Linked DNA regions of Homo sapiens: region 2 is linked to region 1. The links come from fine-mapping of genetic effects on gene expression. Tissue or cell type: whole blood. Region 1 holds a variant in brackets; the other region holds the start of a gene. All regions are shown on one strand. Distances are between the middles of the regions.

Region 1 (5,376 bases):
ACTGCAAGCTCCACCTCCCGGGTTCACGCTATTCTCCTGCCTCAGCCTCCCAAGTAGCTGGGACTACAGGCGCCCGCCACCATGCCCAGCTAATTTTTTTGTATTTTTTTAGTAGAAATGGAGTTTCATCGTGTTAGCCAGGCTGGTCTCGATCTCCTGACCTCGTGATCCGCCTGCCTTGGCCTTCCAAAGTGCTGGGATTACAGGCGTGAGCCACTGTGCCTGGCCAAAATTTGTTTCTTATACATTCAGCAGATATTTTCTGTGAACATGTAATTTGGGATCACTGACCTTTTTATTTATTTATTTATTTATTTTTTTTTGTGATGGAGTCTCGCTCTATCCCACCATGCCTGGCTAATTTTTTTTTTTTTTTTTTTTTTTGTATTTTAGCAGAGACGGAGTTTCACCATGTTGCCCAGTGTGGTCTTGAACTCCTGAGCTCAGGCAATCCACCCCGCTCAGCCTCCCAAAGTGCTAGGATTACAGGTGTGAGCCACCGTGCCCGGCTGACCTTTTTTTTTTTTCTTTTTTTTTTTTAATTGGAGAAAATTTTTTGTGAATTGATACATATATTTTCTGATTACAAAACACAAGTTTTTTTTTTAAGTTCTTAAAGCATAAGGAAAATGAAATTCCTGATAATTCTACCCCCTATAACCTCTGTTAACATATTTCCTAACATATTTCCTTATAGTCTTCTTTCTATGTATCCATATTTATATTTTTTATTCCCACCTTTATATTGAGAACCATAACCTAGATACATTTTTGTATATTTTATACTAGATATTTATATTTTCCACTTTAATGTTATGAACACTCAAATTATTAAGTAATATGTGAAAAATGATATCAAATTGCTATATATCTTTCTTTTTCTAGAGCATATACATAAATTGCTCTGTCCAGTCATTGAAAGCTGTGACTGTTTCTCTCCTAGTGGTTATACTGTTACATTTTTTAGGAGGAGATTTTCCATATTGGTTGTTTTCCTCTTTTCAATGCTGGTGTCTTGTGAATGAGGATTTCGGTTGTTGATGCCTGCTTGGGTTCAGCACTAAGCCCCCAACTACTCAACTATCCTCGTCTTCTCAGAGCCCACATTCAGCATATTTCTCAGAGAAGCTGTTCTGTGTGTTCCAGCTGTCCCCCAGCGAGCAGATCACAGGGTAGTGGGCACCATCGACCAGCTTGTGAAACGTGTCATCGAAGGCAGCCTGTCTCCCAAAGAGAGAACTCTTCTCAAAGAGGACCCTGCTTACTGGTAGGTCTTTAAATGTCCACGCTGTGAATCCCTCTCATGGAGTATATGGCAAAATTTGGGTCACTCTGATGGTATTGAGAGCAGAGGGTGAGATACTTGAGCAAGTGGTGTTCTCCAGTGAGAAGAGCATGAGGGTGGCTCAGATTTATGTGGGTTCAGCAAGCCCCAGCTCTGCTGCAGACCAGTGGTAGGCCAGCTGGGTGGGTGGCCTTCTCTCACCTGTGACTACAGCTCCAAGTCCCTGCTGGGCTGTTTTAAGGATGCAGTGAGATGTGCATGCAGAGAATACAGAGTAAGGGTAGTAAGATTAGTAATACATCATTGCAGTTGTTTGCAATTTATTGCTAATATTTGTTAAACTGTCTTTTGCTTAATTGCCTCTTTATGTAAATAGAACAACTTTTTTTTTTTTTTTTTTTTTTGAGACGGAGCCTTGCTCTGTCGCCCAGGCTGGAGTGCAGTGGCGCTATCTCGGCTCACCGCAACCTCCGCCTCCCGGGTTCATGCCTTTGTCCTGCCTCAGCCTCCCGAGTAGCTGGGACTACAGGAGCCCACCACCACGCCTGGCTAATTTTTTGTGTTTTTAGTAGAGATGGGGTTTCATAGTGTTAGCCAGGATGGTCTCGATCTCCTGACCTCATGATCCACCTGCCTCAGCCTCCCAAAGTGCTGGGATTACAGGCGTGAGCCACCGCGCCCGGCCGAACAACTTATTAAAATTACAGTTTGCGTCCTAAATATAGTACTTTCTTATTAGAGAAAGTAAAGAACAAGCCAGAGAAAGAGTCTTGCTCTGTCACCCAGGCTGGAGTACAGTGGCGCAATCTTGGCTTACTGCAACCTCCGTCTCCTGAGTTCAAG[C/T]GATTCTCGTGCCTCAGCCTCCCAAGTAGCTGGGATTACAGGTGCACGACATGAGGCAGGTCACCTCAGCAAAGAGGCAATGGCCAGTTCTGTCCACAGGGCTCCAGTGGCAACAAATAATGCTTGTGGGGTGTGAGGGTGGAAGGTCTCAAATCTGTGTATTTTTAGTAGAGATGGGGTTTCACCATGTTGGCCAGGTTGGTCTCGAACTCCTGACCTCAGGTGACCCACCTGCCTTGGCCTCCCAAAGTGCTGGGATTACAGGCGTAAGCCACTGTGCTGGGCTGAGACACCATTTCTCTTAAAAAAAAAAAAAAAAAGTGATGATCAGTGCTTTGATTGTATTTCTGCCTACCTTTCTGGCAGTTTATTATGATATCTGGGCGTGAAACTGCTGGGTTAAAGCTCATGTTAGAGGCTTTTGATTTATGTCAGTTTCTCAGCTGCAGCACTTTTTATTTTTATTATTATTATTTGTTAACGGAATCTTGCTCTGTCGCCAGGCTGGAGTATAGTGGTGTGATCTCGGCTCACTACAACCTCTGTTTCCCAGGTTCAAGCAATTCTTGTGCCTCAGCCTCCCAAGTAACTGGGATTACAGGTGCCCGCCACCACACCCAGCTAATTTTTTGTATTTTAGTAGAGACGGGGTTTTACCATGTTGCCCAGGGTGGTCTTGAACTCCTGAAATCATGCGATCCGCCTGCCTTGGCCTCCCAAAGTGCTGGGATTACAGGCGTGAGCCACCGCGCCCAGCCTCAGCTGCAGCACTGAGGCTGGATCATTCTGTATTAGGGTTGGAGCTGTCCTGGACATTGCAGGCTGTTTAGCAGCATCTGTGGCCTCTATCCGTTTGATGTTAGTAGGACCTTCTGTCTCACTAGTAACAACCCAGAATACATCCAGACACTGCCTGGTGTCCCATGGCAGGCAGAGCTGCCCCTGATGGAGACCATTGATGTTTATCATTAGATTACTCTCCATAGGTTATCTGTACTAATTGACTTTCTCACTGCTACTCTGTAGGTGTGCTGTGCCCTCTTTTGTTTTCTGTTTTTTGTTAGTGACAGGATCTCACTCTGTTGCCCAGGCTGCAATGCAGGGGTGCTATCACAGCCCACTGCAGCCTTGACCTCCTGAGTGTGCCCTTTTTGGTAGTCAGATTGTACCCATACTGGACTTGCTATGCTTGCTGTTGTAATTACTAAAGATGCTTGAAAGGCATACATTTCCATGTCTTTGGTCCTACCCACCATGATTTACCAAGGGGAAGGTTGGAGCTTATTGTGGTTTTATTTTTACAAAATTCTTGAGTTTGGATTATTTTCATGTATTGAATGAGGTAGGCATGTAACTTAAAAGTTAAAAATTCCCAAATAACCTAATTGTCCCAGCATCATTTATTGAATACTTTTTATTTAATAAACACTTGTGCCTTCTGTGCAGTTGGTACTGTTCTAAGCACATTACTGATTTAAGCACTAGCTGGTTGAATCCTCATAAACAACGTTGGGAGGCAGGTCTCTTGCTATGCTTATTTTACAGACAAGAAACTTTGAGGCTCCAAGAGCCCTCTTGCCTTGAGGATCCACAACTAGTAAGAGGCAGAGTTGAGATTCAAATCCAGGGTCTGTGGTCTGAACCAGTGTGCATGTTGAAGGATTGTCAGATTGACAGATGCAAGCAGATACCGACCCTCTTGGTAAGAAGGCATCCAGACTTAGAAGGCCCAGGGGCACTTTACAGGTGGTTGATAAGGTGATTAGGCTGGAGGAATAGGAGGCCCTGAGAGGCCTGGGGGCTGGTGCCTCTGCCCCATGACCCCTGCACATGGCCCAGTGGTCTCATGACCACTGATAACCAGGGGCAGCAGACGGAAGCCAGAGTCAGGGGTATGTTTGGATAGGGGGCAGGGCAGGGTACAAAATCAGAAATAAGCGGCCGGGCATGGTGGCTCACACCTATAAGGTGGGTGGATCACGAGATCAGGAGATCGAGACCATCCTGGCGAACACGGTGAAACCCTGTCTCTACTAAAAATACAAAAAAAAATTAGCCGGGCCTGGTGGCGGGTGCCTGTAGTCCCAGAAATAAGCATCAAACTAAGAACTGATATTTGAGGTAAACCAGTATCATGAAAGAGCATCACCAAACTCAACCAACTCCTGACACCCTAGAAGACAGAGTCACTATGAGAAAGAGGAGGTGTAGTCTATAAATATGTATGTGCAATGAATAGTCTCAGGTAATAAGAGTATATTGTATCCATGAAACAGACACTGGTTGCTATGAAAACGATTCTATTAAGGATCTTGGAAATGAAAAATAGATTGAAATAAAAATCTCAGCGGTTGGCTGATAGAATAGATCCTGAAGAAGGAAAGATTTAGGAGTTGGTCCCAGAGACTTTATCATCCAAAAACTCCTTCACAAGGAATTACCTGGCTGGGTGCAGTGGCTCACGCCTGTAATCCCAACACTTTGGGAGACCGAGGGGGACAGATGACTTGAGGTTGGGAGTTCGAGACCAGCCTGGCCAACATAGTGAAACCGTGTCTCTAATAAAAATACAAAAAATTAGCTGGGCATGGTGACAGGCGCCTGTAATCCCAGCTACTTGGGAGACCGAGGCACAAGAATCACTTGAACCCGGGAGGCAGAGGTTGCAGTGAGCCAAGATCGCACCACTGCACTCCAGCCTGGGTACAACGGAGCATGACTCTGTCTCAAAAAAAAGAGAAGGAATTACCAAGAGACTGTAAGAGGAAAGAGTGTGATACAAAAGCACAGCAATAAGTAAAGAAACTGCTAAACTTAGGTTTCTGGTGTGCATGTTTGAATTCTTAAGTCAAAATGCTCCTTGTATGTTGTATTTAACAAAACAGTCAATTGAACGCATAATGAAAAGCCAAATGTTTCTGCTGTGACCTGTTTCCATGTTCCACTCCTTGAAGGCAGTCACTTAGTTCTTCAAACTACTTCTCACGGCTACCTCTGTATCTCTTTTTATTATTTATTTATTTATTTATTTATTTATTTATTTTTTGAGACAGAGTCTCGCTCTGTCCCCCAGGCTGGAGTGCAGTGGCGGGATCTTGGCTCGCTGCAAGCTCTGCCTCCCGGGTTCACACCATTCTCCTGCCTCAGCCTCCCTAGTAGCTGGGACTACAGGCACCTGCCACCACACCCGGCTAATTTTTTTGTATTTTTAGTAGAGACGGGATTTCACCATGTTAGCCAGGATGGTC
Region 2 (5,376 bases), 46 kb before region 1:
CCTGTAATCCCAGCATCTTGGGAGGCTGAGGCGAGCAGATCACTTGGGGTCAGGAGTGCGAGACCAGCCTAGCCAACATGGTGAAACCCCGTTTCTATTAAAAATACAAAAATTAGCTGGGTGTGGTGGCACATGCCTGTAATCCCAGCTACTCAGGAGGCTGAGGTAGGAGAACTGCATGAACCCAGGAGGCAGAGGTTGCCGTGAGCCGAGATCACACCACTGCACTCCAGCCTGGGCAACAGAGCAAGACTCCGTCTCAAAAAAAACCCAAAAACTATATACTCAATGATCTTGCCAAAGTTTATACACATGTACATATATAACACACACGAAATATGTATATATAAAATATGTATATAAACATATGAATATTATAGGTACATGTACATATGTGTACAACACACACACATATACATACATATATACATACATGCCCATATATGTTTTAAATGACTCCTATTGAAGTTGGACAGAAAACCCAAATGGCTTCAGTTTCCACAGGAGAAGCTGAAGGTGACATGACCCTCTGAAACATTCTGGTACCGTCTTTGCAGGGAGCGGTGGGAGGGGGTAAGAAACGCTCCAGGAGCCTTACAGGAAATGGCACGTTATTGCTTTTCAACAACAAAGCCACTGTCCTCCTTCTATGCTGCATGCTTGCAAATCAGACTCAAGGGAACTAAAAAATTCCAGAAGAATCATTCCTAGCACCACCCAGGCTCGTTTTGCAGGTTAGCTTTAAACAGCTGAAACATTAGTTTGCCTCACTCTAAAGAGTGTTTCCTTACTCTTTATCGGCTTCAAGGGCCCAGGGAGTGTCGGAGAGGGGTCCCGGGTCTGCAAGAGCTGGGAGCCCCGGCCCCGGCAACCCCCTCTCCGGCATCCTGCAGGAGGCACCCAAGATGATGAGCCCCCCTCCTCCGGCAGCGTCTCCACCGCCAGCCTGCCCCAGGACTCCGAGACACACGCTTGGCAGAGGGGCCGTCCCTTCCAGCTAAGCCTTTCCGGACCCAGTCAAAGTCACGACTCCTGCCAATCCCTCTGAGATAAACATAACAGATGGGCCCAAACGCGGTGGGTCCACAGCAGAGGGTCAGCGATGCCCAGGGTAGAATAGGCTCTGCCTCTAGCATTCAAGTGGTTTAGGTCTGTGGCTGGTAAAATGGAGATGATTCCGGTTTGGTCTGACAGATGGGATTATTCTAAGGTCCGGAAATCACTTTATAGACTGTCAAGCACTGTTAGAAATGAACACTGGGGTAAGCTTTTGTTTGGGGAGGGGAGGGTGCAGCGATCCTGAGATACCAAGGCTTGGGGGACTATTGGAGGACCTGGGGGATTCGGGGGGATTATTACAGAGGGTGTGCGAACACAGGTGCACGTGGAAGAAAGCCCAAGGTGGGAGAGAGAAAAGGGGGAGACAGAGGTGTGGGGCTGCCAGGGCAGAGGGCAGGTGCCAGGGGGAAGGTCCCTGAGAAGAGAGACACAGGTTGCTGGGGGAGTGGGCACGAGAGTAGCGAGCAGATACCTGGATATGAGGAAAGGCAGTGGGGGACGGGACTAGGTCCAGGTGTGAGTTGCGAGGCCATGAGTTAGGAGTCACAGGCTCAGGTGTGGGTGTGGGGGTGTCATCGACAAGGACAGACTCAGGTGATGTGGGGGGTGTTCGTGAGTGGGGGCGGGTGTTCGTGAGTGGGGGCGCGGTGTCAGGTGTGTGAGGGGGATGTCAGACCCAGCTGTGCGGGGCGCCGGGGACAAGGCCCCAGGGGTGTGGGAGATGTCAGCAAGGACAGTCTAAAGTGTATGGGGGATGTCAACGAAAAGGGACGTGGTGTCAGGCGTGCGTGGACTGCGGGTGACGGGCTCAAACCTGGATGCAGTAGCCCCCAGGGGGCAGTAGACGTGGAGTGTGGGGTTGGGGGGGGTCTTTAACCTCTTCCTGCCCTCGCGACGCTACTGTCATGCCCCGCCTCATCCGCCCCTCGCCCCGGGATCCATGACAGGACCCGTGCCTCACCTCAGTTCAGCCCGACAGGCGCGGGCCGCTGACGCTTGGGCCCCCCCGGCGCCCCCCGCGCCCCCTCACCGGCCCGGACGCGTCGCCGCCGCCGCTACCTCCAGCCGCCACGGCCCCGCCTCGCGCACCCCCAGAGCGCGCCACGGGAGGGGTCCACGCCACGCCCCGATTGGCTGCTCCCTGGCCAGTCAGCGCTGGAAGCGACAGTGATTGGCGAGTATGAAGCAGATGGGCAGCCCCTAAAGCCAATCGCTGATTGGCAGAGGTGGGGCTATTGGGAGAGGCCTGGGGTGCCTGAGTGGTCCCTCAGGGTGCTAGGCGCTGGGAGGCGAGGGCCTGGAGGCAGGCGAGGATTGGAATCTTGGCAGAAAACAGGCAGAACTGTCGGCCAATCGCTGGGGGCCAGGGGCGGGGCTACGAAGAAACTGGCGCTACCGGTGGGGCAGAGGCGAGAGGAACGGAGGGCGTAGCTTGGGGGGAGACCGGGATTGGCCGCAAAGCCGAAGACTGGCAGGCCCCGCGGCCAGTCGCAGCGGCCGTGGGCGGTACGCCCCCAGGGGAGGGCTGGAGCGTTCAAGGTGCAGTCCGACCCGGAGCGCGGCAACCCGACGTGGCCTCGGACGCCTGGCGCAGGGTCCCCTGAGGCTCTCGTGTAGAGCCCGCCCTCTGGCCACCTAGCACAGAAGCGGATGTGAACTTGGACCATCAAGGCTGAAGGACTCCTGGATAATTCTCTATCCCCTTACTCCCCACTAATCCCCTGCAGACGACACGGAGAGGGCAGATTCGCTGGAGGTCACTCTGAACTGCCCTCTCCATCTCGAGGTGGTGTGAAGACATGGAAATAAGGGGCGGAATCCTACTGAAACGCGCTGCGTGGTTTTCTGAGTGTCTGACCTCTCTGCGTCCCAGCTTTCCCCGCCACGGTATCCAGTGACATCCCTGTTGGGCCTTCTCCCTGCCAAGTCTTTTTTTGAATTAACTGAATCTTAACCACAATCCCATGAGGTCAGAGAGACCACTGGCTCCTTTTACAGAAACCAGAGCACAGAGAGGTCAAGCTCCTTGCCCAAGGTTACACAGCATTCTCTGGTTGCTAAACCAGAGAATGAATCTAGAGCAGCCTGCTTTTTGGAAAGAGTGTGTCAGAGAAGAGCCACTGGGGGCCTCAGAGACCTGGGTTTGAATCCTTGTCCAATCACTGGCCCACCACACAACCTTGGGCAAAAGCCCTTGTGAGCCTCAGCTGTTTCATTTGGAAAAGAGGGGGGAAAATGATTCCTATGCCTTGATCTTTCCTCTCTGGGGTTGCTTCCCTGGGAAAATTTACAACTCAGCTCTCATTTTAATTATCTGGTGAAAGCATTTGACCCTGAGCAGGTCATGTGCGGCCTGTGAGCCTCAGCTCCTCTGTGAAGTGCAGAAAAATGCCGGCAGTTTAGGGAGACACCTGCCATCCCAGGCATGGCTGTGTCATCGGCACCTCCCCCGAAGCCACTCTGTTCTATGACTCACCCTTCATCTTCAGGATGGAGAGGGCTACAAATGTTTCCAGATACCAGCTCTTATTTCCTCTAGGTGCTGGCCAGGGTTGGTGGAGATCAAGTTCAGAACCAGGGAATCCTGGGAGGGAGCAAGGCTGAAACCAACCTTAGAAAGGGCTCACATTTCAGGGCTGCACAAGCCCCTGCTAAGTGTGTGATCCACAAGTTTCAAATGGGGAGGATGTGACGGGAAATCACTAGCCCAAGGCCATCATCAAACTCCTGATATTCTCACGATATGCCTACCTGGACCTCCTCTCCCATACCTCCCACCTGTGGTTTGCTTCCTGGCAACTTCCAGGATCTGGCCTCCATTCTGCCCTCCAGAGAAGAGGGGGAAGCTGAGGTCAGTTGAACATCAATTGGGTGCCAGGTCCCCACTGGGCTTTCTCCAATACCATCTCCCCACCTCACTTCCAGGTGGACGTGACAGTGCCCACTTAGCAGATAAGAAAACTGAGCCTATGGTGGAGAATATTCCTTGGTGGAAGGACCCAGGGCTGAGTTTGAATCCCTGCTCTTTTTAACGTAAGTAATGGCCAGTAACAGCCACAGGACCTTCAGCAAATAACACAAGCTCCCCACTTCAGTTTCCCGGCTGTCTCCTAGGGCTGATGTGAGCATTGATGAAATGGAAGCAAAACACTTACAATGGCTTCGTCCACAGTAAGCACTCATGGAAGGCTGGTGATGATATATTGTTCTTCTCTGGGCCTGTTTCCCTCTCTGTAAATAGCGCTTCATGGACACAGACCAACTATGGGCGTGGCTTGCCACACCAAGAGGGAGATATCTACGCCGAGGAGCGCCCACTCCCAGTGCCCACCTGCCAGGCCCTGGGAGGGGGAGGTAACAAAGCTCCTGGAAGGTCCCACAGTGCCTCCAGGGACAGAGCCAACTAAGGCAAAGGTCAGGCTCTGGCCCAGCCTGGGGCTGCCTCTCTAGCTTCTGCTCGTTCTTTAGCAGGCTGGCGCCAGCCAACCTCCCTACCGCCTTCCAGCAATGGCAGGCAAAGCACCTTGGCAATAGCAATGGACACCCCCACCATGGGCACTCATGTAAGCCCAGCTAGGGTGCCCAGGATCTCGGCTCTTCTGCTTTGGCTGGCCAGCCCTGGACAGGACACTGCCTCTTCGCCCTCCAGTCTCCTCTACCTCTTGGGGATCCCAGGAATCATCTGTGAGCCAGGCCCTGGCACAGCGTCCAGGCCTAATCACCTGAGGCCCAAAGGCCTTTTGCCCAAGGTCAGGTTAACAGCTTTGGAAAAAGATGAGGGGCCTGGAGGCAGGCCAAGCTGTGGTCTCATCCCACCGCAGCCCCTCAAATGCCCATGAGTCTATTTCCTATCTGGAAAATGAGGTTTAGTCCAGCCTCTGGGAGATGTATGTTCACAACAGAAAAAATCTGTGTTCCTTTCCCAGGAGCCCAAGCCCATCCCTGGCTGGAGGGAGACATCCTGAACACAGCAGTGACAACAACCAAGCCTGGCTGGGGTCAGAGTGGCCTCATTCACCTCCCAAGGCTCAGATAAGTCAGGCCACTTCACCAAGAGCCTACAGTAGCAGAGGCGTGGCCTGAACACACTCGCACCATCCTTGCAGCAGGCTCCACCTCAGCCCAGGTCTCGATGTCATCAAGGAGGACAGCAAAAGCTACTTAAGAGAAGGCCAGGGCCGGGTGCGGTGGCTCACGCCTGTAATCCTAGCACTTTGGGAGGCCGAGGCGGGCGGATCACGAGGTCAGGAGATCAAGACCATCCTGGCTAACAAGGTGAAACCCCATCTCTACTAAAAATACAAAAAAATTAGCCGG

The links. PIP is the estimated chance that this variant, and not a neighbour inherited with it, causes the effect.
Region 2: it holds the start of SLC25A42, and the variant in region 1 is fine-mapped to the expression of SLC25A42 in whole blood (TOPMed, PIP 0.96).

The regions. Positions count from the first base shown.
Region 1 is chr19:19,015,000-19,020,375 of GRCh38, reverse strand. It overlaps SUGP2 (SURP and G-patch domain containing 2), which reads left to right. Exons shown (of 11, transcript NM_001017392.5): 4 at 1,147-1,267. Among named protein-coding and RNA genes, the nearest start is that of SUGP2, 16 kb to the left of the region's middle. The variant C/T (reference allele first, on the strand shown) is at 2,129.
Region 2 is chr19:19,060,760-19,066,135 of GRCh38, reverse strand. It overlaps SLC25A42 (solute carrier family 25 member 42), which reads right to left and starts at 2,142. Exons shown (of 8, transcript NM_178526.5): 1 at 2,021-2,142. It overlaps LOC124904655 (a long non-coding RNA gene), which reads left to right and starts at 2,611. Exons shown (of 3, transcript XR_007067160.1): 1 at 2,611-2,946; 2 at 3,985-4,092; 3 at 4,986-5,310. RefSeq lists silencers at 1,971-2,240, 2,501-2,670.